3 separate regions of the Homo sapiens genome follow, and regions 1 and 2 are each linked to region 3. The links come from fine-mapping of genetic effects on gene expression. A gene starts in region 3. Each other region holds a variant in brackets. All regions are shown on one strand. Distances are between the middles of the regions.

Region 1 (10,208 bases), 32 kb before region 3:
CAGCACTTAGGCAGGCCGAGGTGGGTGGATCACGAGGTCAGGAGTTCAAGACCAGTCTGGCAAACATAGCGAAACCCCATCTCTATTAAAAATACAAAAAATCAGCTGGGCGTGGTGGCACGCACCTGTAATCCCAGCTACTCGGGAGGCTGAGGCAGGAGAATCACGTGAACCTGGAAGGCAGAGGTTGCAGTGAGCCGAGATCATGCCACTGCACTCCAGCCTGGGCAACAGAGCAAGACTCCGACTCAAAAAAAAAAAAAAAAAAAGATGTTATTTGATGTTAATATATTAATGTTTTACATGCATATGAGAGTCTCATGGAAAAGGAAGTAAAAACCCAAAGAAGCAGTGAGGCCTGAGAGCTTATATGCCATTTTAACAATGAACAACAAATTTGTGGAGAAGTGACAAGACAAAGAAAAAGAGCTCGGGTTTCTAGGGGTGATAAATATATGCAGGAAAGTAAGTGGAAGATAACAGCTATTTTAGTGAGGTTTGATTATGCAGATTCAAGCTAGTGCCATCTCTAGCGATAAGAGTCATCTCTTTCTGGTGTGGGAGAGGGGTTGGGGGAAACCTTCACAAAGAGAAAATTTATTCCCTGCTTTTAGACAGAAAAGAGAAGGGTAGAGAGCTTTTCCTGTATGTGCTGTTTCTCAATTGCCTTCAGCTCAGAATCATCCTCACACCAAAGTGGCATATTTTGAGCTAGCATGTTCTGATCCCCTTCAGAAACAACTCATCAACTCAACTCATGATTCTTTTTGTTTTTTTTTTTTTTTTTTTTTTTGAGATGGAGTTTCGCTCTTGTTGCCCATGCTGGAGTGCAATGGCGTGATCTCAGCTCACCGAAACCCCTGCCTCCTGGGTTCAAGCACTTCTCCTGTCTCAGCCTCCTGAGTAGCTGGGATTACAGGCATGCACCACTGCGCTTGGCTAATTTTGCATTTTTAGTAGAGATGGGGTTTTTCCACTTTAGTCAGGCTGGTCTCAAACTCCCAACCTCAGGTGATCCGCCCGCCTCGGCCTCCCAAAGTGCTGGGATTACAGGCATGAGCCACCGTGCCTAGCCCATGATTCTTGAATCTGGTAAATAAAGAGAAGGAATCAACCATTTAACTTGTCCTTTTGTATTTGATACTTAAGTGCACCACTCAGATAGGCCCCTTCACAACTGAGATGCTCGTTCAGTCCCCAGGAGCCTCCACTGCTAAAGTTCCTCAGCTGAGCCACTCCCAGGAATTGTTATTGGGTAAGGGGAGCTGTCTTACTCAAGATTACATCCTCAACCCAAGGTCAGCCCACAGTGATTAGTCAATGCATGGGCGGGGTGGAGGGTATAAAGGCACAGCCTTAACTTTGAGGAGCTATGCCGGCTTTAAAGCTCACTGTAGGATTGTCTGGGTTCTTTAAAATTCCATCACAGTTCAACTTCTTTCTCACTCTGTCCAGCACTTTCCTCACTTTCTTACAGGTGTTGTTCCCTAGGGCTTCCTGCTTTAAACCTGTGACATGCAATTTTCATCTCAGAGTCTGTTCTCCTAGAAACTGAGCTATGATACTTTCCCACATGAAATACACCTCAGGGTAACAAAATAGTTGATGAGGGAAGGTTCTCTCAAGAATAAATAGAGACTACTCTGGGCACACTGCCTATGGGTTATCCCTGCTCCACAAGGAGCAATACCAAAAAGGAAAATAATAATTAAAAAATAAATTTGTAATGAAAAAAGAATCAATAATGGCAGGGCACGGTGGCTCATGCCTGTAATCCCAGCACTTTGGAGGCCAAGGCGGGCGGCTCAGTTGAGGCCAGGAGTTCAAGACCAGCCTGGCAACATAGCAAAACCCTGTCTCTACTAAACACACACACACACACACACGAAGGAAAAAGAATAAATAGAGAAACAACGATATAAGAATAACACCACTGGCCGGGTGCGGTGGCTGGCTCACACCTGTAATCCCAGCACTTTTGGAGGCCGAGGTGGGTGGATCATGAGGTCAGGAGATCAAGACCATACTGGCTAACACAGTGAAACCCCGTCTCTACTAAAACTATAAAAAATTGGCTAGCAGTGGTGACATGCACCTGTAGTCCCAGCTACTCAGGAGGCTGAGGCAGGAGAATCATTTGAACCCAGGAGGCAGAGGTTGCAGTGAGCCGAGATCATGCCACTGCATTCCAGCCTGGGCGACAGAGAGAGACTCCGTGTCAAAAAAAAAAAAAAAGAATAAGACCACTTTGCAAATTTCTAATTACATACTCTAGGCAATGATCATCAGTGGCTGCTAATATCACAAAAAGAGAGACCACTAGATATTATATGCCTCCTGATGGAAGTACACACCACCACCTGAAGGTATTCTTGCAAAAAATTTTAAACTGAATCAGACTAAATCTCTAAATCCAGCTAACAGTTTATAAGAGATACAAATACGCAGAGGATACAATCAGAAAAATCCAGAATGTAAGAGACTCAACTGGACAACCGAATTTCTTCAACATATAGCTTGCAAGGGAAAAGAGAGAGAGAGGAAGGAAGGAGAAACTTATGAACAAATTACAAACAAAGGGACTTTATTTGGTTTGTGATTTTTTTAAAAAGCAAAAACTTTTAAAATTTTTTTAGACAATCAGAAACTTGAACCCTCATTAGGTATTTGATAACATTAAAGAAATACCAGCCACACACGGTTCAAGCGATTCTCCTGCCTCAGCCTCCCAAGTAGCTGGGATTACAGGGGCCTGCCACCACATCCGGCTAATTTTGTATTTTTAGTAGAGATGGGGTTTCACCATGTTGGCCAGGCTGGTGTTGAACTCCTGGCCTCAGGTGATCCGCCTGCCTTGGCCTCCCAAAGTGCTGAGATTACAGGCGTGAGCCACCGTGCCTGGCCAACAATTAATACTTTTTTAGTGCAATTATTTCTCAAATATTTTTACTTGCTAAATCTGGCAACCCTACTTCAAATTCTTTTTCTTGCTTTTGCAGTTAATCATTTTTTGTTTTTTTTTTTTTGTCACAATTTGACTGCCTGTCCTAAAATGTTATCCATATGGTACTTCATTAAGGCAGCTAATATTTAAAACCTCTCATGTTAAGAAGCCGAGGGAGATTTCTAGTATTGTCACCTTAGAGATGGCAGTTCTGGCACAGGTATTTAATTTTGAGATCTCAAAATACCAGCAGAAAAATTGTCCCCTAGAGAATGAGGAATCTGGAAAGTGTTTTTGACAGATCTACCACATTCTTATACCACAAATGCTGCCACGTTGTTCTCTCTCCTCCTCCCCTTTCCTTTGCAATAACACAAACTGTATTAATCAGCCAGATAATGGCAGTGGTGAGTGGCGTTGATGAGAGCCTCCACTGTACTGACTGTGCTTACCCTCCCAGAGGTATGGCTTGAGGTGGGAAAAATGGAAACCAGAAAGTGGTCCCTTTAAAGATGACACATCTCTTCTATGTCTCCACAAAAGGAGACTCATATTTGTATTGTTTCAAAGCACTGTACTTTCCTACAGTTTGCTACTCAGAAAAGCTGGGAGTGGTTGAAGAGGTTAAACAACTGGCAAAAGGTTACACAACTTCGCTGGATCTTATATTTCTGATTTGCATCCCAGGATTCTTGGCACCATAATCTGGATAAGGTTGAGCTTTGGTAAAGTTAGAGAATCTATACACTGGAGTTCCTATGAACTGATCACAGTTCCAGTCCCAACTTTTAATCCTTCTAAGTAAGGGGCTCACTATGTACATAGCCTCAGACTCTCGGCTCATTCAATCACTCAGTACAGATTTCATGAACGTTGGACTAGCTATGAAGAAACAGTGATGGACAAAACAACAAAAGTCCTGTCTTCAGAGAGCTCACAGTTTAGGGGGAAACAGATAATTAAATATGTAATGACGATGAAATCTGATGAGTGTGGTGATAGGTGTCAGAACATACACTAAGAGTCTCTAACCTCTATGTTGAGGAAGGCTCCCAGAGAAAGCAATGTTTAAGCCTAGACCTAAAAGATGAATAAGAATGAGATAGATAGGTGTAGAGAGAGCGAGCAGGCAGAAGAGTGTTCCAGGTGGTGGGAATGGTGTGCAAAGGCCTGGAGGAGAACAGAGGTAATGCGGGGATGGGATGAGACAGAGCAGAACTAAAATGCAGGGATGCATGAGACAGGTCAGTAATTTTGTGCCTCTTCAAACTAATCTTTTTGACATATCTTTTTTTTTTTTTTTTGAGATGGAGTCTCGCTCTAACACCCAGGCTGGAGAGCAGAGGCACGATCTCCGCTCACTGCAAGCTCTGCCTCCCGCCTCCCAGGTTCAAGCCATTCTCCTGCCTCAGCCTCCCGAGTAGCTGGGACTACAGGCACCCGCCACCACGCCTGGCTAATTTTTTGTATTTTTTTAGTAGAGACGGGGTTTCACCGTATTAGCCAGGATGGTCTCGATCTCCTGACCTTGTGATCCACCCGCCTCAGCCTCCCAAAGTGCTGGGATTACAGGTGTGAGCCACCGCGCCCGGCTCTTTTTGACATATCTTAAA[A/C]ATATTTATTTAAAGGAAAGGTTTATTAAGTCTGGAGAAGATGTGAAATGTAGTGGAGAGAATGCTGGTGGCTCCCCAGTGACTCCTTTGTGATCCTAAACAGGGACATTTGCATGCCTTGGACCCAAATCTGCAAAGCAAATCAGCCAAACAAAAGGCCTGCACCTAAGACCTGACCTCCTTAGACGCAGTTAAATGACCATTGATTGTGACTGAAGCAACTCCATGGGGTGCTTGTCCCCTCCTCCCAGTCACCACCCTAAGAAGCTTCTTCTTCTTTTTTTTTTTTTCTGAGACGGAGTCTCACACTGTCACCCGGGCTGGAGTGCAGTGGCGCAATCTCGGCTCACTGCAACCTCTGCCTCCCAGGTTCAAGTGATTCTCCTTGCCTTAACCTCCCAAGTAGCTGAGATTACAGGCACCCGCTACCACCCCTGGCTAATTTTTTTGTATTTTTAGTAGAGATGGGGTTTCACTATGTTGGCCAGGCTGGTCTTGAACCCCTGACCTCGTGATCTGCCCACTTCGGCTTCCCAAAGTGTTGGGATTACAGGTGTGAGCCACCTCACCTTGTCGAAGCTTCATTATTTCTATCTCATTGTATTTATATTTTTTGTTTTAGCACTCTTCCTGACTGGCTGGCTTTCCCAAATTCTGACTTGGTGGGAGGGAGATATGAGGCTGAGGAACTGGCAGGGGCCAAGAGTGTGAAGTTCACACATAGCTCACTCACTGGGCTGAGTCTTCAGGCCCATGCACAAGAGCACATCTTGACTAATTGCTGATGTGGGAGCAGCAATGTGGAAGAGAGCTGCAGTCCTCGAACCTCCTTAACGCCTTACAGATTCCTTGGTCCCATTCCTGACATAATTAAAATCAGAATTTCTAGGGATGGAATTTTGGAATTTGTATTTTCAAATTTCTTTCTGGGTGAATCTGGTATTAAACAACTCTGGGGCTCACCAGACTCTGTTGTAAAAAGTACACATTTCAGAGCCACTAAAACCTCAATTCAAACTCTGGCTCCAGCATTTACCTGTGTGATCTTGGCAAGTGGTTTTTTGTTTCATTTTGTTTTGTTTTGCCTGAGCTTCAGTTACTCCAGTTGGAGGAGGAGGAGGAGGAGCAGGAGGAGGAGCAGGAGGAGGAGCAGGAGAAGAAGGAGGAGGAGAAGGAGGAGGAGGAGAAGAAGGAGGAGGAGGAGGGAGGGGGAGGAGGAGGAGGGAGGGGGAGGAGGAGGAAGGGGAGGAAGAAATAACCTGGCAAATGGTTTTTTGTTTCATTTTGTTTTGTTTTACCTGAGCTTCAGTTACTCCAGTTGGAGGAGGAGCGGGGGGGGGGGGGGGGGGCGGGGCGGGGGCGGGGAGGAAGATATAACACGGCTAACTTCATATTATTAAAGGGTTAAATGAGATCATTAATAGCTAGTACTTGACCCAGTAGTCTATAATAGTAGTAGTCCCTATCTTACCTGACCTCACCTTCCCAGGATGCCAAGCTCAATTCTGGTACTAGCTCCCCCTGCAGCCCTACTTGCCCTCTGCTTTTATTTCCCAAGAACTTGTATTTTAACCTTTTTTCATCTTATAAGCAGCTTCTGTGGGGAATGACAGAGACAGTGGTCACTCCCTGCTGAGAAGAGGGACTGAAATTGAAGCCATGGGAAAAGGAGTCTGTTTAAACATTTCCCACCCCTGTCTGAGGCCCCACCTCAGGCACAAAAATCTTCCCAAGGAGCTGGTCATCCCTCCTAGTGAATGGATAAAGTTGCTGTAGGCTGATGAGGGTCAATTTGACTTTTTCTTGAACACCAGGCTCAGCACACAGAAATAGTTCTAAGGTAGTGGTGGCACATACACTGTGTTCCCCTAATGATTGGGGGGATCACTTCCAAGCACATCCATTCTTTTATTTATTTATTTTTTTATTTTTTATTTTGAGACGGAGTCTCGCTCTGTCGCCCAGGCTGGAGTGCAGTGGCGCGATCTCGGCTCACTGCAAGCTCCGCCTCCCAGGTTCATTCCATTCTCCTGCCTCAGCCTCCCGAGTAGCTGGGACTACAGGCGCCGACCACCACGCCCGGCTAATTTTTTTGTACTTTTAGTAGAGACGGGGTTTCACCGTGTTAACCAGGATGGTCTCCATCTCCTGACCTCGGGATCCGCCCACCTCTGCTTTCCAAAGAGCTGGGATTACAGGCGTGAGCTACCGCACCGTGCCTACATCCATTCCTTACTAAGAAAAAAACTGTCTATGGAAACAAACATCAGAATTCCCTTTAAACGCTGGGTGCAGTGGCTCACGCCTGTAATCCCAGCATTTTGGTAGGCTGAGGCGGGTGGATTGCCTGAGCTCAGGAGTTCATGACCAGCCTGGACAACGTGGTGAAACCCCGTCTCTACTAAAAATACAAAAATTAGCTGGGCATGGTGGTGCATGCCTGTAATCCCAGCTACTTGGGAGCCTGAGGCAGGAGAATCACTTGAACCTGGGAGGCAGAGGTTGCAGTGAGCCGAGATCATGCCCCTGCACTCTAGCCTGGGCGACAGAGTGAGACTCCATCTCAAAAAAAAAAAAAATTAAAAATTAAAAAAAAAAATTCCCTTTAACATAAGTACTGGGATTGCTTAGCACATTTTTGTCAGAATCGAGAGTATTCAAACTTGTTTCCATTTTCCTCTAAATATCCTTATAAACTAAGCTAAAGCACATTGTTTTATTAAAAACAACATCTTTTCTGATGGTAAAATTGGTATATGTTCATTAAACACAATTCAGAAAATAACAAATATACTATGTAAAGAAGAAAAGTTAAACCATCTCTAATCACCACCATGAAATAATAAAATTAACATTTTGATTTATTTCTTTCAAGTATTTTATATGCTTGAAAGAATATTTAGTAAAATTTGCATAATTCAATAGACTGTTTCTAAATCATGTTTTTTCACAATATTATATTGTGAATCTTTAGTATATTGCTAACAATTTTCAAAACTAAATTTTTATTGTTAACAATACTCTAGCATATAAATATTCTATAATTTATTTCCCTGTTGTTGGACTTTTGAGGTTTTTTTTTTTTCATTTTTTCTGCCATAAATATTAAGAGCTAAGTTTCTTGTTTACACTTTATCTTTGGGAAAACTGACTTAAAGAGGTTAAAGGGCTTGCTGCAGGGCTGGAACTGGAATACAAATTCTATACTACAGTCTAATTCCCTTTTTCATAGACCACAAATATTAATTTGTTGTAACACTATTAATCAATGCTTAGAGCATATTTGCCACTTCAATACATTTTATTTCCTGGCCTTTATTTTATTTATTTATTTATTTATTTATTCATTTTTTTGAGATGGAGTCTCGCTCTGTCACCCAGGCAGGAGTGCAGTGGCATGATCTCGATTCACTGCAACCTCCGCCTCCTGGGTTCAAGCAATTCTCCTGTCTCAGCCTCCCACATAGCTGGGATTACAGGCTGCACCACCATCCGCAGCTAATTTTTGTATTTTTAGTAGAGATGGGGTTTCACCATGTTGGCCAGTCTGGTCTCAAACTCCTGATCTCAGGTGATCCGCCCACCTCAGCCTCCCAAAGTGCTGGGATTACAGTCATGAGCCACCGCACCTGGCCCTGGCCTTTATTTTAAAAGTAAGCATTGGCTGGGTGCAGTGGCTCATGCCTGTAATCCCAACACTTTGGGAGGCAGAGGCAGGTGGGTCACCTGAGGTCAGGCATTTGAGACTAGCCTGACCAACATGGTGAAACCCCATCTCTACTAAAAAAAAAAAAAAAAAACACTACAAAAATAAGGCAGGCATAGTGGCATGTACCTGTAATCTCAGCTACCTGGGAGGCTGAGGCAGGAAAATCGCTTGAACCTGGGAGGCAGAGGTTGCAGTGAGCTGAGACTGCACCACTGCACTCCAGCCTGGGCAACAAGAGTGAAACTCTGTCTCAAATAAATAAATAAATAATAAAAGCAAGCATTACCAACAATGTGGGAGAATATGAGTGGAGTATGTATGTGGTCCCAAAGTTGGGGTAAGTGGGAGTGAGGAACCCCTGTAACTCCCATCTTCATTTCTGCCTCTTCTCATTGCACCAACTTCCCCAACTGAAACACCTTATACTGATAATATCCCTTCCTGGTTTGATTCATAAAACAAAATAAAGTTTCTCCAGTGCTTGGCATATTCATCAAGACATCAGCCCCAGCATTTACATTTTAGTGCTTCCCTTTCTTTACTTGATTTCCAGTCTCTCTCTCTCCCTCTGTCTCTCTCTCTCTCTCTCTCTCTCTCTCTCTCTCTCTGTCTGTCTGTCTCTCTCTCACACACACACACGCAGGCTGATTGGTCTTTGATTTTCAGTAGAAATTGTTGGTATTTGTAGCTGTGCTTGATCACATAGGTGAAAAGATATACTTACAGAATAAGAACTACCCTATGACCGTCCTTCTTTCATGTTGCTTAAAGCTATACTTCAAAGGAATACAGCACCACTTTAAGGAAAGACTCAGGCCTGAGGACCTAGAAGCCCAAGTTCCAAGTTTTGGGGCTGAGCTCTGTTACTAACTTCAGTCTGACCTTGGACAAGTTTCTTGTCTCTGTGATCACATTCCATCTTTATTAGAGGATTTTGAGGATTCCTTCTATTTCTGACATGAAATAATTTTAAACAGACTTGTTCCTTAGATGCTCTTTTAGAACATCTCTGAACCTTCCCAATTTAAAAAAATAACTTGTTTGAGGTGGCTTCTCTCTGTTCATCAAACATCTTTGCTTCCATTCCTTATATAGGTCCAACCCAAGAGACAACACCTGTAGGAGGGCCTCGTCCCACAGTTTTCTTGTCACCAGCACTGCTTTTGATCCAGTCAACTTGACTGAGATTTCTTTCCTGGGTTCTGTGCTTCAGAGGACCCTACTCTGGATCCCCTCTGGTACCCACTCTCCCCACAGAGTAATAGGTCTGTATGGCCAAGGGGATTGTTCCACCTGGAACCTCCTTCCCTCTTCTAAATAAAGTTCCCCTTACTCAGGAAACCCATAGTTCCCTTGCTGTGAAGTCTGAACCTGCTTCCAGGGGTTGCTTGAGCTTCTGCCCTTCTCTTGTCTTTTTAGGGGTGGATTATACTGCCCAAAATGTGGTCAAGGGGCAGCTGTGTATGGTGTTTGGAGTTGTGGATAGAGCTTGGATATGTGGGGTAGAGTCTGAGCACTTACAAGTCTCTGTGAGGTCAGTATGGACAGAAGGGTGGGTGTTCCATTGGAGCAGGGTGAGAAATATCCATTGGCACATTCCCATTAAGCTCACAAATGTTGAGAATGAGCCTACTTGTGAGATACACAATTTTGCAAAGAGAGATATAGAGCAGTCAAGAAAAGTGGCTCTTCAAAGGTTCTATGAGTTACCTGTGGCCACATAGGAGGACCCCTCTGTCTGAAGCGAGTGCGCAGTAAAAAGAGGATGACTCATCTTTGGCTCTAGCTAGATTAAAATTCTGGACACAAAGGTAACTTATAATTTCTTATCTGGACTTCATACTGCCAAGCTAGAGTCATGATGTTATGCACACAAAGTATGATATTATATTAACAGTAATAATAATGACAGTAGATTATTGAGCCTAACCTCATTCCCATG
Region 2 (10,208 bases), 61 kb before region 3:
GGTTGTTTGTCCAGAAACTTTGCAATTTCATGATGGATGGGGTCAGAGACCTCAAGCATGATGTCCTCTAGCCCCCTGATCTGCACGTTCTTGTCATTTGTCCACCCGGGTACTGCTGCCCTGCTAAGGTCTGCTGCTTCTGTTGTTTGTGCCTTGTCCTCTGATTTCTTTAGACTTGGCCAGAGCTGGGTGGTGCCTCCCGGCTACTTAGCAGCCTCACTTCCCTCTTGTTCAGGTTCTTGCTGGAGTCTCTGAGGAGGTCTTCCTACAAATCTCATTTGGGCTGCAGACCAGCACTGCCATCAGCTAAAGTACGATTTTTCTTCTTTGCTCATCCTGCCTCCCCTAGACACATACACTGACACCACAGACACACATGGGCACAGATCTCAGTTAGCCCTCGGGCAAGCTTTCCCATCAACACCCTCAGCATGGTCAGTGTTCCTCCTGGATACCTTCAGGGCATCGTGGAAGCTGGGCAAGACCCCTGGAGGCCCGAACTCTGCCTACCATGTTGTGCCACTCCTTCTCCAACATTAGCATAGAGTATCAATCAATTTTTTGGTCTTATGCACCCACTTTTAGGTTTAGTCAGCAACACAACTATGCCTAGAAAATGTGGGCCTCAATATTTTTACACAAGACAAAAATGAACATCAAGAAAAACCTTAGAAGGTAATTTGGGGAGTGAGAGTGAGAACAGCCTCAAATGTGCAATCTGTGGACTGAAAGATTACTGGAAGGGGAGAGAGACGGGCCTGCTGATCTCACCTTGACCATGGGGAGATTCGCAAAAGCGGCTGGAGGCAGGGCACGGACGTGCATTATTTCTACTTACGCATTAGAGCTGCTTTTCCTTCCTAATTAGGTTTTTGTCTTTTTTTTTTTTTTTTTTTTTTTTTGAGCCGGAATCTCGCTCTGTCGCCCAGGCTGGAGTGCAGTGGCGGGATCTCGGCTCACTGCAAGCTCCGCCTCCCGGGTTCACGCCATTCTCCTGCCTCAGCCTCCCGAGTAGCTGGGACTACAGGCGCCTGCCACTACGCCCGGCTAATTTTTTGTATTTTTAGTAGAGACGGGGTTTCACCGTTTTAGCCGGGATGGTCTCGATCTCCTGACCTCGTGATCCGCCCGCCTCGGCCTCCCAAAGTGCTGGGATTACAGGCGTGAGCCACCGCGCCCGGCCAGGTTTTTGTCTTTTACTTAGTGCCAGCTAACATAGCCACTTCCTTCTATGAGTCCTGCTATAGTCTGGTCACTGCAGGCCAACTGGGCCAACCTAGAAATGAGCCTTATTCCAGGGATGACCTGATCCTCCCACCAGTCTCCTCTACCTTCCTCACCAGCATCTCCTCACCTGCTCCATCCGCTCTCAGAGCCCCCAAAGAAGTCGCCAATGTACAGGGCAAGCACCCACACTTGCTACTCCCACCCTCACTCTCAAAGCTTCAACACTGGAGTTTGTATTTTCTGTTGGGCAGATCTGGAATAGAGTATTGATTGTCTCTGCCCTGTTTAAGCTGGCTACGAGGGTTGCCAGATGTCTAATTTCAAACATTTAAACCTTTTTCTGAGAAAGAAAAAAACACCAGATGTATAAATGTCCAGAATTAGAAAATATGTCTTTTCTCAAAATGTAACTTTAAATTTCTTTTTTTTTTTGAGACGGAGTCTCGCTCTGTCGCCCAGGCTGGAGTGCGGTGGCACGATCTCGGCTCACTGCAATCTCCGCTTCCCGGGTTCAAGAGATTCTCCTGCCTCAACCTCCTGAGTAGCTGGGATTACAGGCATGTGCCACCACACCCAGCTAATTTTTGTATTTTTAGTAGAAGCAGGGTTTCTCCATGTTGCGCAGGCTGGTCTTGAACTCCTGACCTTGTGATCCGCCTGCCTTGGCCTCCCAAAGTGCTGGGATTGCAGACGTGAGCCACCATGCCCAGCCACTTTAAATTCTTTTAAAGTAACCAAATATTCCCAAGTATTTCCAATCTTCTATGACTGCCCTTGTTTTAATACTCAAATAAAATGGCTGGGCCCAGTGGCTCATGCCTATAATCCCAGCACTTTGGGAGGCCAAGATGGGTGGATCACCTGAGGTCAGGAGTTCGAGACCAGCCTGGCCAACATGATGAAACCCTGTCTCTACTAAAAATACAAGAATTAGCTAGGTGTGGTATCACATGCCTGTAGTCCCAGCTACTCAGGAGGCTGAGGCTGAGGCAGGAGGTGGAGGTTGCAGTGAGTGGAGATCACGCCACTACACTCCAGCCTGGGCAAACTCTTGTCTCAGGAAAAAAAAAAAAAAAAAACTCAAATAAAATGACTCAGGCTATGGAAGAAAGGTCCAAAAATTTCCCTGAGGCTTCCCAGAGGCTCAACTTCCATACCCTCACTCAAACTGTCCATTTCCACTAAACTCTTGGTATCATTAGCTTACCATCTCTTTGCTTGAAGTGAGTACATCGCCCCTGCACTCAGCTTTGCTTCATTCACCCAAAGCACTACTCACCCAAGGTTTTACTAATTTGGGGCATTCATTCAGTCATTGAACAAATATTTATTGAGCAGCTAGTATAGACTAGGCCCTGTTTAGGCCTTCGGGATTCAGCAGCAAACAAAAGAGACAAAACTCTCTGCCTTCATTGAGCTTACATTCCAGGGGAAACTCTCGGCCAATAAATACAACAAATGACATGCTATATACTGTGTCTGGTAGTAATATGTACATAGAGAAAAACAAAGTAGACGGGATGCAGAGTGCTGGGAGGAGAGTGTGATTATTTTCGTTTTTTTTTCTTTTTTCTTTTGGGTTTTACTATCTACATAGGAGTTTAATTGTTTAAACAGAGGAGTCAAAAAGGCTTCACTGAGGAGACTTAACATTAGATAAAGTAGGCTGGGCACAGTGGCTCACGCCTGTAATCCCAGCACTTTGGGAGGCCGAGGCGGGCGGATCACGAGGTCAGGAGAGCAAGACCATCCTGGCCAACACGGTGAAACCCCGTCTCTATTAAAAATACAAAAAAAATTAGCCGGGCGTGGTGGCGGGCGCCTGTAGTCCCAGCTACTCGGGAGGCTGAGGCAGGAGAATGGCATGAACCTGGGGGGCGGAGCTTGCAGTGAGCGGAGATCGTACCACTGCACTCCAACCTGGGCGACAGAGCGAGAATCTGTCTCAAAAAAAAAAAAAAAGTTAGATAAAGTCATGAAGGCAGCACTGGAGACAGCCATACCTAGGTCTGGGGGAAGGACGACCCAGGTAGAGGGAGCAGCAGGTGCAGTCCCTAGGGACAACATCAGGAAGCCAGTGTGGCCACAGTGGGAACGAGCGAGGGCAGAGCCAAGATGTGATCATAGGGGTAACAGGCCAGGGGTAGGTGGGAAGTGGATTGCATGGGCCAGTAGGCCAGTGTGACCATTAGCTTTTACATGACTATTGCAGGCTCTGGAGTAGAGGGGTGATACAATCTAAGTTACATTTTAGAAGGATCATCTGGCTCCTACATTGAGAAGAGAATGAAACAGGCAAAGGTGGAAGCTGAAAGATGACTTTGGTAGCCATTACAGTAACCCAGGCTAGAGCTGGCTGCTGGAACCAGTGTTTAGGCGATGGCACTGGGAGGAGTGGTTGGGTTATGATACATATTGAAGGTCTGCCAACAGGACTTGCAGATGTGAAAGAATGAGAGGAAGCGAGGATGAAACTTAGGTTTTTAGACTAGGTTTCAGCCTAGGGATGGTGTTGTCATCTACTAAGATGGGAGAGAAAAGGAGTAATAACAACACAGATCAGGAAAGAACATTCAACACAGGTCAAGTTGAATGTCAGGCACAGCAGTTTCTCTGGGCTGTGTCCCTGCAGAGTCCTAACCTCTGGTCTTTTTTCTTTCTTTCTTTCTTTTTTTGAGACAGGGTCTTGCTCTGTTGCCCAGGCTGGAGTGCAGTGGCACAATCTCAGCTCACTACAACCTCCGCCTCCTGGGTTCAAGTGATGCTCCTGCCTCAGGACCCTGCAAAGCCCTACTAATTTTTGTATTTTTAGTAAAGACAGGGTTCCACCATGTTGGCCAGACTGGTCTCAAACTCCTGACCTCAGATGATCCGCCCACCTCGGGCTCCCAAAGTGCTGGGATTACAGGCGTGAGCCACTGCGCCCAGACCCCAACCTCTGGTCTTATTGCTGGCCTCCTGTCTCTCCACATTCTTTTTTCTCTGCCACCTCTTCCAGGCTTCTAACCACCTTCCTTGAGCTACTAAACTAGAAACTCCAAGATTTTTATTATTTATTATGTTCCAATGAATAATCTATGTGATGAAAAAAACTGAAGAAAGCAAGTTCTCAGACAAACTGATTACAAGAAATGTCAAGAGTCTCATTTCAAGTTTGCTGCCAGGACAGAGCCCTCTGAGCAAGTTATACACAAGTAATTCTCTCTTGAGAGAAACATCTATGAAGAAGAAGAAAAGGAAAAAAGAAGAC[AAG/G]AGGAAAAATAGAATGCAAAAGAGAAAGAAAGAGGAGGTGTTACAAGAAAGAAGACAAGGAAGATGAATAAATAGAGGATGGATGAAGACTATGTCCAACCAACTTTCCAGAAGAGGTCCTCTTCACAGTGACATCTATCAAGCCTTTGATTAGGAATGCTAATTACTTCCCAGAAGAGGCCCAGTACCTTTTAAACTATGGAAGAACAGTTCTGCCCCTTGCCAGACTTGGGACCATATTCTTTCTCATTGTTTCCCTCCTCTCTATCCACAACAAATAAACCCTACCAAGTTTTATATTTTCCAAAGAGAGATGAGTACTACCCCTTCACTACAGTGCTTCAAAGTAATAGCCATTTCTTTGTGTCTAGCCAGGATTTTTTTTGCCCATAATGTTATGCTCTAAAGGAAAGGTTTCCCTTAAGTCATATTGTGGTCTGACTTCTGCACATGTGCTGTAATTGGTGTTTTTTGTTTACAGGGCTCCACTGGTGGTAGGCTCTAGAATAGGAGTTTGGCCAGGACAGTAACAAAAGCACCAACAGCTCAAAGGACCAATCTTGCCAACATCATTTTACTTAAACTCTCTATTAAAGAGAGTTTCTAACATATGCAAAAAATAGGCAGACTTGTACAAAAAACTTCCTAACACCCATCACTCAACTTCAACCGTTATCAATACAGCTAGTTGTATTTAGTCTGTATCCACACCCTCTTCTCTTTCTCTTGCATTATTTTGAAGCAAATTCTAGACTTCATATCATTTCATCTGCAGATTTTCACTGTGTTATCTCTAAAGAATAAGGTCGGCTGGGCATGGTGGCTCAAGCCTGTAATCCCAGCACTTCGGGAGGCCGAGGCGGGTGGATCACCAGGTCAGGAGATTGAGACCATCCTGACTAACATGGTGAAACCCCATCTCTACTAAAAATACAAAAAATTAGCCGGGCGTGGTGGCAGGCACCTGTAGTCCCAGCTGCTCGGGAGGCTGAGGCAGGAGAATGGCATGAACCCGGGAGGCAGAGCTTCCAGTGAGCCCAGATCACACCACTGCACTCCAGCCTGGGCAGCAGAGCGAGACTCCGTCTCAAAAAAAAAAAAAAAAGAATAAGGTGGATTTTTTAACATATAAACTCAATACCATTAAATCAACAATAATTCATTAATATTAAATATTCAGTAAGAGACTTCAAATTCTCAACTGCTTCAAGAATGGCATAATTTTATTTTATAATGTGTTTGTTTCACTAGGGATACAAATGAAGTCCACATGTAATTGATTGGTAAGTCTTTTATGTATTTTATATAGGTTCCCCCACCCCTTCCTTGCAATTTGTTTGTTGAGGAAACCAGGTTTTGGGTCCTGTAGAATTTCCCATAGTCTAGATACTCCTCACTGCCCATCTGTGATGTAATTTATCATGTATTTCCTATAAATCAGTAGACAAATCCAGACACTGCTGGCTTGTTTTAAAATCACATTTGCCACTTACTTTATTACTATTTCCATTATGTCATCTTACAATTTCTCAGAAGTGTTACATTTGTCTAAATATCAATGTCTCAAATCTTGCAACATTCTTTTAAGGTAAGAAACATTTCATAGGTTTATTCCAAAAGGGCTAGCCACCTTAAATCAAATATTAGAGAAAAAGTATTATTTTAGAACCAAAAATTCAATGATAGCTTTTTGGCACAAAAGTTTTATTCACATTGAGAACAAAGATTGTCCTAAACATTGTCTGGAGGCAGAACTTTTTTATGTGATATAATTCACAACCTCCTCTGGGAAGTAATTGGCATTGCTGTTAAAATGCTTGAGCACTTTTCTGATAGACCTGAATGAGATTAAGGACTTCTGGGAAGCCAGGGTTACCCACCCAGCTGACTGGCTAGCCTAATAATCTTTAACCAGACATTATTTTTTCTTGTATCCAGTTTAACAATGATTAACCATTCACTTTTCCTATACGATTCCTAAAGGGAATCTTAAATTGGCACATTTAAAGGTTTCATCCCTTGTGCCTAGCTAGAAATAAAGCTCTGACCCAGGTTTATAATCCATTTGTCTAAGAAGTTGTTTTAACAACACTTAGGAAGAAATACTGTATGTTTTTACTACTTCATGTGGCTAAAACTGATCATTGAAAGGTATTAAATATATGTGCAGGAGCCCTTAAATGTATGGAAAATTGGTTTATTTGAATTCTCTCAGCACTTTTATTTGACTAATGGAAATAAATTTTTCTTCTTTGGGTAATGTAATTCATACTTAGCCACTATCATGGAGTAAAAGATCTTCCTTCAGATTCTTTCTTTTTCTTATTCTTATTCTTTTTTTTTTTTTTTTTTTTTTTTTTTTTTTTTGAGATGGAGTTTTGTTCTTGTTGCCCAGGCTGGAGTGCAATGGCATGATCTCGGCTCACCACAACCTCTACCTCCCGGGTTCAAGTGATTCTCTTGCCTCAGCCTCCCGAACAACTGGGATTACAGGCATGCGTCACCACACCCGGCTAATTTTGTATTTTTAGTAGAAATGGAGTTTCTCCATGTTGGTCAGGCTGGTCTCAAACTCCCGAACTCAGGTGATCCCCCTGCCTCAGCCTCCCAAAGTGCTGGGATTACAGGTGTGAGCCATGGCGCCCAGCCCCTTCGGATTCTTTCTATAAGCAAATTGTGCCTTGGACATAGGCTTTGAATGCTTTGAGAGAACCTCTCTTCATAAGTGGAAATAAAATCATGATTTAATTGTATCAAACGCATTATGGATAATCTATGGGATTTAATGAATCAATAGGTGAGGCTGAGTTGGTAAGAAGTGAACGTTACTTCTGCATTTAAAAAAATACATTTAACTCAATAGGAAGTAACAGATGAGTAATTGGAAAACATTTTAAACTTGATCATAAAGAAATAAAAATTGGCCATGTGCAGTGGCTCATGTCTGTAATCCCAGCACTTTGGGAGGTAAGGCGGGCAGATCATTTGAGTTTAGAAGTTCAAGACCAGCCTGGGCAACATGGCGAAACCCAACCTATACAAAAAAATACCAAAAAATTCGCTGGGCATGGGGGCACGCATCTGTAGTCCTAGCTACCCAGGAGGATGAGATAGAAATGGATGGCTTGAGCCCAGGAGGCAGAGGTTGCAGTGAGCCGAGATCGCGCCACTGCACTCCAGCCTGGGTGACAGAGCAAGACCCTGTCTCAAAAAAAAAAAAAAAAAAAAAAAAAAAAAACAGTTTCCAGCCTTGACCACATAATTTTGAAGCCCCTCACTCTATCTCAAATGGTTAGCCAGCTAAAAATCTTCACACAGAATTTATGTTGATATGCAAAACAGCAGGCCCATTCTAGAAAGCCAGAGCCCAGGTAATTCATACTGGCTCATCTGTTTTCATCAGTCTATACCAAAAGAAAACAGGACTCTCAAATTAAGAAAATGGAATCTAGGGGTAACTGGGAATAATATGATCTCACAGCCTTTTTCAAAGGATTAAAAGTGATAGATATATAAAGCACAAAGCACAGTGTTCATTGTATACATAAGGTACTTATTTTAATATAGTGTTATTATTTAATATACTACTTATAGATAATATATAATATGTTATTTATATATTGTGATATGTTAATTTTTTTTTAGATGGAGTCTTGCTCTGTCTCCCAGGGTGGAGTGCAATGGTGCCATCTCGGCTCACTGCAACCTCCACCTCCCGGGTTCAAGTGATTCTCCTGCCTCAGCCTCCTGAGTAGCTGGGACTACAGGTGCGCGCCACCAAGTCTGGCTAATTTTTGTATTTTTAGTAGAGATAGGGTTTCACCATGTTGGCCAGGCTGGTCTTGAACTCCTCACCTCAAGTGATCTGCCTGCCTCGGCCTCCCAAAGTGTTGGGATTACAGGCGTGAGCCACCGCGCACAGCCAAGACGTATTAAATTAATAATATTTATAAGCTCCTTCTTTTTCCCAAAGTCAGAAGTTCCACACATGCTCAAGGTCAGGGGTTGTTAATGAAGAAAACCTAAGGTAACCGAAGTAATGATGTTTGTGTAGTGCTTAATAATCTACAAAAATTTGTGGGTTTTTTTTTTTTTTTTTTTTTTTTGAGATGGAGTCTCGCTCTGTCACCCAGGCTGGAGTGCAGTGGCACGAGCTCAGCTCACTGCAACCTCCGCCTCCTGGGTTCAAGCGATTCTCCTGCCTCAGCCTCCCCAGTACCTGGGATTACAGGCACACACCACCATGCCTGGTTAATTTTTGTATTTTTTTAGTAGAGACGGGGTTTCACCATGTTGGCCAGGCTAATCTTGAACTCCTGACCTTGTGATTTGCCCGCCTCTGCCTCCCAAAGTGCTGGGATTACAGGCGTCCACCACCACAACCGGCTAATTTTTTGTATTTTTAGTAGAGACAGAGTTTCACCATGTTGGCCCGGCTGGTCTTGAGCTCCTGACCTCACGTGATCCACCCACCTCAGCCTCCGAAAGTGCTGGGATTACAGGCGTGAGCCACCACGCCTGGCCCTACAAAAAGAGAACCGTGGAACCCAGCGACTAGTGTTCAGCTCAGTTAGGACGAACCCAGGCACTTAGCCATGCAGGAACAATGGCAAGACTTTAGCGCAATCAGAGCGGCAATGGGCGCATCGCTGGATCAGGAGCACAGTGGACACCCTGCTGGATCCGGAGGCCAAAGCTCAGCTCCAGCCGTAACAATCATGGACCAGAAGAGTGTGCAGTTGCAAGATTTAATAGAGTGAAAACAGAACTCCCATACAAAGGGAGGGGACCCAAAGAGGGTAGCCGTTGCTGGCTCCAATGCCTGGGTTTATATCCCGATCATTGTCCCTCCCCCTGTGCTCTCAGCCCATAGATGATTGGCTATTTCTTTATCTTCTGTTTTTGCATAATTAGCATTTTAATGAACTCTCTTTACTACCTGATTGGTAGTAAATTGGTAGTGTGAGCTAAGTTGCAAGCCCCGTGTTTATGTGGTCACCTTCCCAGCTAGGCTTAGGGATTCTTAGTCAGCCTGGGAAATCCAGCTAGTCCTATCTCTCAATAATACATTGTTCTGTCTGGAATTATTACATTTCCGCATAGTCTCTACTCCAGTCTCCCGAGGAAGGAACTATGCAATGTTTTCATCTGAACCACAAGGCCCGCCACAGTCCATGGCAAGTGTCTGGTGTTTTAATGAGGACTAAATAGATAATGCTGTAAAAACTCTCTAAAAATTATAAAATGTGGGCCAGGCGCCATGGCTCACGCCTCTAATCTCAGCACTTTGGGAGGCCAGGGTGGGCGGATCACAAGGTGAGGAGTTCAAGACCATCCTGGCCAACATGGTGAAACCCCATCTCTACTAGGTACAAAAATTAGCTGGGCATGGGGGCGCGCACCTGTAGTCCCAGCTACTCTGGAGGCTGAGGCAGGAGAATTGCTTGAACCCAGGAGGTGGAGGTTGCAGTGAGCCGAGATCATGCCACTGCACTCCAGCCTGGCGACAGAGCGAGACTCTGTCTCAAAAAAAAAAAAAAATTATAAAATGTGACACAAATACAGGCAGCTGTCATTGTTTATTCAATAAAGTTTAAAATGAAGAAATCTATTTAAAAATAAACACTTTAAAAGATAAAAGAGTGCTGACTCTTTAAAAAAAAAAAAAAAGTAACAGCACTGAGAAGAAGGTAAGTAGTATACTGACATGTGCAGGCAAAATGAATCAC
Region 3 (10,208 bases):
GGGGTGCATTCAGTGGTGTCGAGAGGTTGGTCTTGACTCTAAGGATGAACAAGTACGGTCAAAACCCTATGGGGGATTTCTGCCTGCTTCCAGGTAACTCTGGAACCTCAATACTACCGAATTTGAACCAACACATGGGAAGTGAGGAAGTGGGGCAGGAGTCGGGGTGTGGAACAGTGCAATACCTAACCAGACCCAGAAATCCAATAGGTATTATCACTAATGGAGCTTTAGAGATTTCCAGCAATCCTTTAGGAGACTGGGGCTAGCCTGTGAGCTGTAGACAGTCCAACTGTCCTAAGTAAAATACAGTACAGCCGTATTGTGCTTCATCTTCTGATCTCAACTTATCCTCCACCCTCTCCCTGCTCCCAGCTGCCCCACTCCTACACCACAATGCTCTCAGAAGTTGTGTAGCACAATGTACAAGAAGTTGCAAGTATTATTCTCAAGGAAGTACAGTATATGATGGGAAGGAGAGGGTTCTATTCACCAAAAATCATCTTAAGAAATAAGGATTTCTACTTTGGGAGGCCAAGGTGGGCAGATAACCTCAGGTCCGGAATTCGAGACCAGCCTGACCAACATGGTGAAACCCCGTCTCTATTAAAAATACAAAATTAGCTGGGCACGGTGGCGCATGCCTGTAATCCCAGCTAATCGGGAGGCTGAGGGAGGAGAATCACTTGAACCCGGGAGGCGGAGGTTGCGGTGAGTCAAGATCACGCCATTGCATTCCAGCCTGGGCAACAAGAGCAAAACTCCATCTCCCCTCCCCCCAAAAAAAAAAAGAAAGAAAGAAGGATTTCTTTGTTGAAAAAATTCTTTGACAGTTGCTTGGGGGTAGAAACTAACACCTGAGGGGTACAGATTTGGGTGGACTATCTGCAGAAGGCAAGCAGATGACTTTGTATGTTGTTCCACAGAGGGAATGGGAAGAGGAGAAAGGAAAGATAAGAGAGACGGGATGGAACCAGGAGATGTGAGCTCCTTGCCAGCCTGTCACTTAGGGCAGAAGGCAGCTTTAACACCATTAAAAGTCAATTTCAAAAAGTGTCTGTTTTTTAGCCGGGTATGGTGGCTCATGCCTGTAATCCCAGCACTTTGGGAGGCCAAGGTGGGCGGATCACCTGAGGTCAGGAGTTTGAGACCAGCCTGGCTAACATGGTGAAACTCCGTTTCTACAAAAAAAAAAAAAAAAAAAAAAAAAAAAAAAAAAAAAAATTAGCCAGGCGTGGAGGCGCGTGCCTATAATCCCAGTTACTCGGGAGGCTGAGGCAGGAGAATCGCTTGAACCTAGGAGCCGGAGGGTGTAGTAAGCCGAGATCGTGCCATTGCACTCCAGGTTGGGCAACAAGAGCAGAACTCCATCTCAAAAAAAAGTTAAAAAAAAACTCTGTTTTTAAAATATTCCAAAAAACATACAAAATATCCTAAAATTATGGACTCCTTTGAAGTACAATTATTTTGGTAAAAGATGAAAGATTTATAGGATCTGAAGAGAAACTAGAGAATCAAGTACAATTATTTGGATAAAAGATAGAAAAAGAAGAAGAAAATTTTTAAAAAGAAAACATTTGCATATAACAACTTTCTGAGCTTCTTGTTAAGAACCTGGTGAGCAGTAGGTGCTCCAAATTATTTCCTGCGTGAGTGACTCTCCTGCCACTCCCCACTTTCCCAACCTGTACTTCACACTCCAGCAACTACTTGTATTTCCTGTTTGCCATGCCTTTTCTCACTGTGTGTCTGTTGTGGTTGGAATATTCTCTGCCTATCTTTCCTTTCCCCACCCTCCTCCAAAAACACACTCTCTTGCCCACTAAGCAAGTTACTACTCATTTTTATCCCTGCCTCCTACTGTCTCCCATGGGAAAGGCAGTCTCTCATTTCCACCAGGTTTCAACTCAACAATCACAGAACTAGGCTGAGTGCAGTGGCTCATGCCTGTAATCCCAGCACTTTGGGAGGCCGAGGCAGATGAATCACCTGAGATCAGGAGTTCAAGACCAGCCTGGCCAACATGGTGCTAAAAATGCGAAATACTAAAAATGCGAAAATTAGCCGGGCATGGTGGCAGGCACCTACAGTCCCAGCTACTTGGGAGGCTGAGGCAGGAGCATCACTTGAACCTGGGAGGCAGAGGTTGCAGTGAGCTGAGATCGTGCCAATGCACTGCAGCCTGAGTGACAGAGCAAGACTCTGTATTAAAAAAAAAAAAAATCACAGAACTTCTCATTAAGGCCATCTCTGGCCATCTACTAAAATGCCAGCATCCCCACCCACACCCTCAAATCTTCACAGCCCTCTTCTGTGCTTTTCTCCTCAGTTCTTACTAATATTTAACATATTATATATTTTAACTTATTTGATCTGTTGTCTGTCTCCTTCAGTAGAATATAAAATCTATGAAGACATGGATTTTTGACTTTTTGTCTGCTACTCTGTCCCCCTTGCCTAGAACAGGACTTGATACACAGCGAGTGCTTAATATATGCAGAACGGATGGATGGATAGATGGCTGATTGAAGCTGCAGCTCAGGGACCATCTGTACCTGGAACCTCCAAGCAGATTTAGATGTTCTTTCCTCCTATATATATCTGCTCTTATCATATTGTATTAATACTTGTTTGTATGTTATTTTCCCCTCTGGGCTAGAAACTAATTTAAGGTTCAGGGCCTAACTGCTTCATCTTTATATAATTGGAAGTGAATATTTAGAGCTTGGTACCTGATATGTCTTTTCTTCTTTTTCTTTTTTTGAAACAGAGTCTCGCTCTGTCGCCCAGGCTAGAGTGCAGTGGCACATCTTTTCTATTTTTATTATTATTTATTTAAGACAGAGTCTTGCTCTGTCATCCAGGCTGGAGTGCAGTGGCATGAACACGGCTCACTACAGCCTTTAACTCCTGGGCTAGAGCAATCCTCCCACCTCAGCCTCCTGAGTAGCTGGGACTACAGGCACGTGCCACCACGCCCGGCTAATTTTTGTATTTTTAGTAGAGACAGGGTTTCACAATGTTGGCCAGGCTGGTCTCGAACTCCTGACCCATGATCTACCCGCCTCGGCCTCCCTAAGTGCTGGGATTACAGGTGTGAGCCACCGCGCCCAGCCTAGGTTAAATAACTTCTAAGGACACAACTAGTAAGCTGCAGCATTAAGATACTAATTCAAACGTATGTCATGCACCCCCTTTATTTTTCATTCTCATACTATCTTTTCTTCACCCTGCCACCTCTGCCCTACCATGTTCTGTCCTGCCCCCACATTTTTTATTTATTCATAGTCTACCCACTACTGCTAGTTCAAATTTCACATATTCAATGAAATCTTCCTTGATTACTCTTATTCATGTTAATTTCTCTTTTTTTTCCAGAAGGCTCCTGAGATAGCTCTCACGGTAAATGGGGGAGGTTATGACATGGGGCATGTGGCCTTGGAGAATAGCCTATTCAAGTCCTAACTGCTTTCACACTCAATATATATTCAGACTCTCCATGCAAAGGCCAATTTGTTTTGCAGGTAATGGATAAAGAACGAATCTCACCCTCCAGTGGTCCCCAATTTCAGGTAGTGTTTTCTCATGATATGGATGTATCTCCTAAGGCTGATGTGGCTGATGATGGATGCAATTGTTTGCATTATTTGGCTGAGTTAAGTTTCCCAGGAGTAGCTGCAGAATGGAGCAGATTTACAAGGGTTATCCGGACAAACAGCATCCCCACTTTGGGACTAGCATTTAGGACACCAGAAGTCTTTCCTTTCCCTTCTCCACCCCTGCTTCTGTTGGAAGCAGACTTCAACCCCTCCCAAATCTGACTCCTTCAGGGTTCCTACATGAGAAGCAAAAGCTCATTTCCTATTCGCCATTTCCTCATGCTAACACATCCAAAACAGAGAATTTTTGTTGGCTCAGCTGCTTTAATTTTTTTGGTAGAGGAAAATATATCAACATTAGAAACCATTGATTTTTGTTGCTGATGGTCCTTAGAAAGTAATGCAAAAAGTTGCTTAGAGTTAAAAAAGTATGCCTGATAATCTGCTTTCATTTCCTCCTTTCTCAAGGTGATACAATTACAATCAGAACCTGCAAAAAATCCACAGTAAATTCTTCTCTAATGCCTTTTGCACTTAAAATCTTTAGTAGATACCTTAGCATCTTATTCAGTAATAACATGCCAACTTAGTCTGTAACTAAATATTTGGTCTTCAATTGTGACTACATAAAATGCTGAAATATCTATAACTTGGGAAGCAGCAGTTATAAATGCAGGTCTGGTATTAGACAACCTGTGTTCAAATCGCACCTCTATCGTTTATTAACTGTGTGACATTAAGTTCCTTAACGTCTCTGATAGCCTCATTTTCCTCATCTTAAAATGGGATCCTATCATTTCATAAAGTTGTATTCTATATGAGTAATTAATAATGATAATAGTTCTTTGAAGGCCTACTACACTAGGAATTATGTTGAGCACTTCACACTCATTTTATCTAATTGTGAGAACAGGGCTTCGTACACTGTAGACAACCAAAACATACTGAATGATTGAGGCGGGGCTAATGAGGTCCGCAGCTGGCACGCCATTAGAGGAGTCGCGAGTGGAGCTCAGTCATGTCTGCCCACAAAGCGCCTGCGCTTGACCTCTACGTTATATTTACTTTGGCAATGTACAAAGTGGTGAGGACAGTCCTAGCCCGGAGGGCCCCTAACACATTGTCGTCTTCTTATCCTCGGCCCTCTGCGTTAGAGAGGGCTGCCCCGAATCGGCTTTGAACGCTGACTCGCCCTTTTCCAGTCGGCCCTTGAGCCCACTAGTCAGGGCTACAGCGTTTTCCTAACCGAGGTTCAGAGGTGAGATGGAAAATGTACCCGTCTTTATTCTGTTCTCTCCCCTGCAATGACAGGGTGAATGGCGGTGGGGTTGGGGGCACGTCTCCAGAGTCCCAGTCCGCTCGGGACCCGCGGACCGCCCGGAGGCGACAACGGCCCTGAAATTGGGGGGAGCTTGTTTCCAGCCGGACTGTGTCCCTGGGCGCGCCAGAGCGCCGCGCCTGCGCGCTCAGCCCGTTGCCGCGCCGGCCCTGCGGACGTGCGCGCGCTGCCTTCGCGGCACCTGGGCCTGAGGTGCGTGCCTCCCGGGCCCTCGCCAGCTCCAGATGCGTGAGGAGGACTTCAGAAACCCGACTGAGAAGTGGAGCGACCCCCAGGGAGGGTCGGACCTGCCTCAATACCGCCAAGGTGCCTGGGGACCCAAGAACGGGGGCTCCACAACCTCAGTTCCTGAGCTCCTTTTGCTTTCTCACTTCCCCACCTATTGAGTGCGTCTCACGCGGAGCAGAAATTTGAGAGGAAGGCGTAGAGGGATTTTTTTTTGTTGTTGCTGTGGGTTGTATCACATGTGGCGTTTTCATCCTGGCTGCAGCCAAAGCAGTTTTTACCCTTACCCTTCCTTTCCTGGCGTGGGATTTTGTGGTTTCTGGACTCGGCTCGACCATTACGTGCTTATTATTGGTTGTGGGCCTTTAGAACGAGGACTGTGTGTCAGTGTCCTTTGTCCAGTGTAGTCCACTGGGAGGGAGAGGTGAGGGTTCAAGGCCAAGAGAATGGGCCCGGGGCGAGTGGGGCAGAAGCAGCCGCCGGAGATTATTCCCCAACTGAAAGTTGTGTGTGTTTCTCTTAGGTCTTTCATTTCTTGTTCGCTTACTTTCGTGAAATCCTCACATCGTTTTAATGGTACTAGTCAAGACAAGAAAATCAACAGGCTTTCAGCCTTGAGGCAACATTGGATATTATTGAGGTCAGTTTTTACAGTTTTTACAGTCTTCACGTAGAGTATCTTGTTCTTGTCAGGATAAATTCTGGATTGAACCACTGAGCAGATCTACTATTCTTTTATTTCAGTTTAAGATAAGAAAAATTACAGTCTTTTTTATTTTTATGTTATCAACAAAAATCGGTTGAAATGGGATTTGGAGCTCCATGAGTGCGTGAGGTGAGGATCCCTAACCTGACTCTCATAAACAGGAGATAGGATCACCACTTGCCACTAATGGTTCTAACAATCTAGGGCTCCCAGTAAGTGCTTTTCCACGTGGTGGGAGGCAAGTGACAACAGTTATCCAATCTTAGTGCTAACAATGGATGATTAACCGTAGCTCCTTTTTGGTACAGGAGCTGTAGGTAGCCAATCCCTGTTTTAATCAGAGGTAGTTGTGGTGTGTGATTTTTTTCTTTTAGGCGTGTTCCACGAAAGCATTTATTAAAGGGAAGAAGAAACATACAAAAGGAATTGAATCTGGCTTTATACCAAAATCCTGTGTGATCATTCAGTCCTGACATTGGACAATTACCAGGCTTTGCCTGACTGGCCTCAAGGGCCAAGCTGTCCTCCCACACCATACTCGATATGGGCCGGTGCATTGCAGTTTTCTGGAGGGGGTTGCAGTCAAGGACTTGCCCTGCCCCTCCTGCTAGATATGCAAATCCCATAACTTCTTTCCTAGCCTGGGTACCTCCATTTGGAGGCCCTCCTAGGAAGGACCGTGGCTAAGACACTTTTCTCCATTTTTGACCCAGCTTCTTTCACTCCTAGACCTTCCCCTCCCTTTCCTATTCTGAAGTTCCATAAGAGGCAGGAGATTTTTGTTAGGGGCTCCTTTCAGTGAGAGGATTACCTCATATGCACTGCATCAACTGACCCTCACCCAGTGTCCTTGTATTTAGTAGACCACTGGGGAGCCAGTGCCTCTTTTTACCACTTGCTTGCACTGTCACAGTAAGTGAATAAAGGCTTGATTACTTTTGGTTTGACTCATTGTCCTGATTGACTACCTTGGCACCTAATTGCTGCCAAGTTCTTTGCAGTTCACTGGATTCATGACTTAATTTTAATTATCATGACTGTTGCTCTGTATCGGCATGTTTAGAGACTTTGGAGCTTGTTCACCTCTAATTTCTCTAATTCAAGCTACTGAAAATGCATATTCATAGCACCAAGAGTTGATTGTTGGTTAACATTGATATCTGGGTTATATGATATATTTTACTACTATACTGGCTTACAGTCAGATTGTTTTATTTTGCGTGGATTTATGTGGCATTTTCCATTTGGCCTGTAATTAGATGATTTTTATTTAAAATAAATATTTTGGAATAATATGGGTCAAGTGAAGAAAACCAGACACTTGCTTTCTTTAGTAATCTTGTCTCATACTATGGGCCCCTATCTTTCTCACCTTAATAGATCACTTGGCCACTTTGAATAAAGTGGTCGATTTGTTGTAGGTTCCTTTGTCTAGTATGAAGAGGCATGTTAAGAACAGCTTTCATAAACTTTTTTACTTCTTCCTACAGAAGTTTCACAAAACAATATTTATCCTTGCTATATAGTATGCAGTCTGATACTTTCTACTATTATTTATCCCCTATTTTTATTTATGTATTTATTTTTAAATTTTTTTTGAGAGTCTTGCTCTGTCTCCCAGGCTGGAGTGTGGTGGTGCAATCTTGGCGGCTCACTGCAACCTCCGTCTCCTGGGTTCAAGCAATTCTCCTGACTCAGCCTCCCAAGTAGCTGAAATTACAGGCATGTACCACCACACTCAGCTAATTTTTGTATTTTTAGTAGAGACAGGGTTTCACCATGTTGGCCAGGCTAGCCTCGAACTCCTGACCTCAGGTGATCCCCTGCCTCGGCCTCACAAAGTGCTGGGATTACAGGCATGAGCCACTATGCCAGCCTCCGCTCTTATTTTAAATAACAAAGTGCTGATCATGATCTGCTAAGTTGAATTCACAATCCATTAATGAGTAATATCCTGCAGTTTGAAAAACACTGTGATAAAGTAACTAAAGATATTTGTTCAGTAATTTTTTTTTTCTGTTTCTGATTCACATTGCTAAAGAACCACAGTGGGTATGTTTGTGATTTGGGGTTGAAGGTATCTTCTAGGAGAAAATAGTAACACCGTGTTTGTTGGATGTTTGCCAGATCAGCTGACAAAAGAACTCCAGACTTAGAACTCTCTGATCTAGAAGATACATTATATTGAAAGAGCTAGCACAGCTTTTAATTTTTTTTTGAAAAAATCTCTGACTCCTTTATTTAAGGGCAGTGCCATAGTAAAGTAATAATGAAAAGAAAATTGGCTTCTCTGATAGAAGATAGAGTATAAGATAGTTATGAAAGTGCTTGCTAAACTTTTTTTTTTTTTTTTTTTTGAGACAGTCTCTCGCTCTGTTGCCCAAGCTGGAGTGCAGTGGTGCAATCTTGGCTCAGTGCAACCTCCGCCTCCCCAGTTCAAGCAATTATCGTGCTGCAGCCTCCCAAGTAGCTGGAATTAACATATGTGCACTACCACGCCTGGCTAATTTTTGTATTTTTAGTCGAGACGGGGTTTTGCCACGTTGTTCAGGCAGGTCTTAAACTCCTGGCCTCATGTGATCTCCCTGCCTTGGCCTCCCAAAGTGCTGGGATTACAGGTGTGAGCCACTGCACTGGGCCAGTTTTTTAAATCTTTATATTAACGCTTAAGACCAAAATGACCCTTTTACTATATTGCCTGATGGGCAAAGCACACTCAAGTTTCAATTACTTAGTCATAGATAGCTATATAAGTAACCAATTTGTCGATCTTATTACCTCTATGCTTGTCTTTTGGGAATTTCACAACAAAGTGAAAAGGAGAATTTTTTTTTTTTTTTTGAGATGGATTCTCACCCAGGCTGGATTGCAATGGCACGATCTCGGCTCACTGTAACCTTTGCCTCCTGGGTTCAAGTGATTCTCCTGCCTCAGCCTCCTGAGTAGCTGGGATTACAGGTGTGCACTACCACACCCGGCTAATTTTTGTATTATTACTAGAGGCGGGGTTTCACCATGTTGGCCAGGCTGGTCTCAAAATTCCTGACCTCAGGTGATCCACCAGCCTCAGCCTCCCAAAGTGCGGGATTACAGGCGTGAGCCACGGCGCCAGGTGAGAAATTTTTAAAACCTGTAAATTTAGTCAGTGGGTTTATCTCTTATTGAGAAACGCTTAAAAATGTTACTAAGACGATAAGGATAACATTTTAAAATTTGATTAGTGTTGAGCTAAATAGTTCCTTAGATTTATGTATTGCTTCACTGTTTTTTAGCACATTCATATACATTATCTCCATTGATTTTTGACAACAGCTTGTGGTGGTAGACAATCCAGGAGACCTTTTCCCCATTTTACAGATGAGAACTCTGTATTTCCTTCTTCCTACCACCAAGATCGTATAGTGGCAAATCCAGGACTAGAACCCAGGTCTTCTGTGAATTTTCTCCTAGTCCACACTGTCCTTGTTGGTCTAAAGAAGTAATTGAGAATAACTCATGTTAAATTTGTGGCTAAGAAATCCACCTATGATAAGTGAAATGTTCTATTCTAAGAGCATATTTACAATGTGCTATAATTGAATGCAAGTATATCTTATTTTTAGTATTATGTTTTGATTTGTTACCTTTCTAGCCCATTTTTTAAAATGATGGCAACTAAATACTGGCAAATCTACCTAATAATGAAATAGGAAAATTGGAATTAAAATATCTATTTCATGTTAAGAAATTCAGCCTAGTCCTCATTTAATGTAGCATCTCAATTAGAAAAATAGCTTAAAATTGTATTGATTTTTAGATATTTCTTTTAAAGACTCATATCTCTGTATGTATAAAATTAGTATTATTATTCTAAAGTATTACTTAAAATGATTATTAACTTGTAAACACTAAGTCCAGATTCTCCTTTGCCTTTAATATCTTCAGCCAAAGAACAACTTAAGTTACTTTTCATATGAATAAATAATTTTAAAATTAATACTTTTTTTCCTTTAATTTTTAGACATCTGTGGAATTTAAGAACAGTATGGAGCTCATCAGAGTATATCATTGAAGAATATGATGGCTGAAAACAATTTAAAAATGCTAAAGATTCAACAGTGTGTGGTAGCCAACAAACTACCTAGAAACAGGCCATATGTTTGCAATATTTGTTTTAAGCACTTTGAAACACCATCAAAATTAGCTAGGCACTATCTCATTCATACTGGTCAAAAGCCATTTGAATGTGATGTGTGTCATAAAACCTTTAGACAACTAGTTCATCTGGAGAGGCATCAACTAACTCATAGTCTGCCTTTTAAATGTAGTATTTGTCAGCGTCACTTTAAAAATCTGAAGA

Which allele goes with the higher level. Positions count from the first base shown, and alleles are read on the strand shown. Sizes are in standard deviations (SD) of each study's normalised expression. Not every link is listed here.
With allele G in place of AAG in region 2, the expression in monocytes of the gene that starts at base 5,073 in region 3 is higher (moderate effect, 0.61 SD a copy in BLUEPRINT).

The links. PIP is the estimated chance that this variant, and not a neighbour inherited with it, causes the effect. A credible set is the group of variants that fine-mapping cannot tell apart.
Region 1: its variant is the best candidate, but not a certain one, in a credible set for the expression of ZNF770 in whole blood (INTERVAL, PIP 0.88).
Region 2: its variant is the best candidate, but not a certain one, in a credible set for the expression of ZNF770 in monocytes (BLUEPRINT, PIP 0.82).

What each region holds. Positions count from the first base shown.
Region 1 is chr15:35,015,080-35,025,287 of GRCh38, reverse strand. It overlaps LOC105370763 (a long non-coding RNA gene), which reads left to right and starts at 8,498. Exons shown (of 3, transcript XR_932098.3): 1 at 8,498-10,077. RefSeq lists an enhancer at 4,466-5,158. The variant A/C (reference allele first, on the strand shown) is at 4,558.
Region 2 is chr15:35,043,899-35,054,106 of GRCh38, reverse strand. No RefSeq gene overlaps it. Among named protein-coding and RNA genes, the nearest start is that of NANOGP8, 36 kb to the left of the region's middle. RefSeq lists a silencer at 808-1,040. The variant AAG/G (reference allele first, on the strand shown) is at 4,478.
Region 3 is chr15:34,983,152-34,993,359 of GRCh38, reverse strand. It overlaps ZNF770 (zinc finger protein 770), which reads left to right and starts at 5,073. Exons shown (of 3, transcript NM_014106.4): 1 at 5,073-5,244; 2 at 5,687-5,803; 3 at 9,870-10,208. The coding sequence starts at 9,926. It overlaps LOC105370764 (a long non-coding RNA gene), which reads right to left and starts at 5,002. Exons shown (of 5, transcript NR_188212.1): 1 at 4,876-5,002; 2 at 3,550-3,675. RefSeq lists enhancers at 1-142, 4,889-4,978, 6,385-6,434, 6,515-6,574, 7,558-8,210.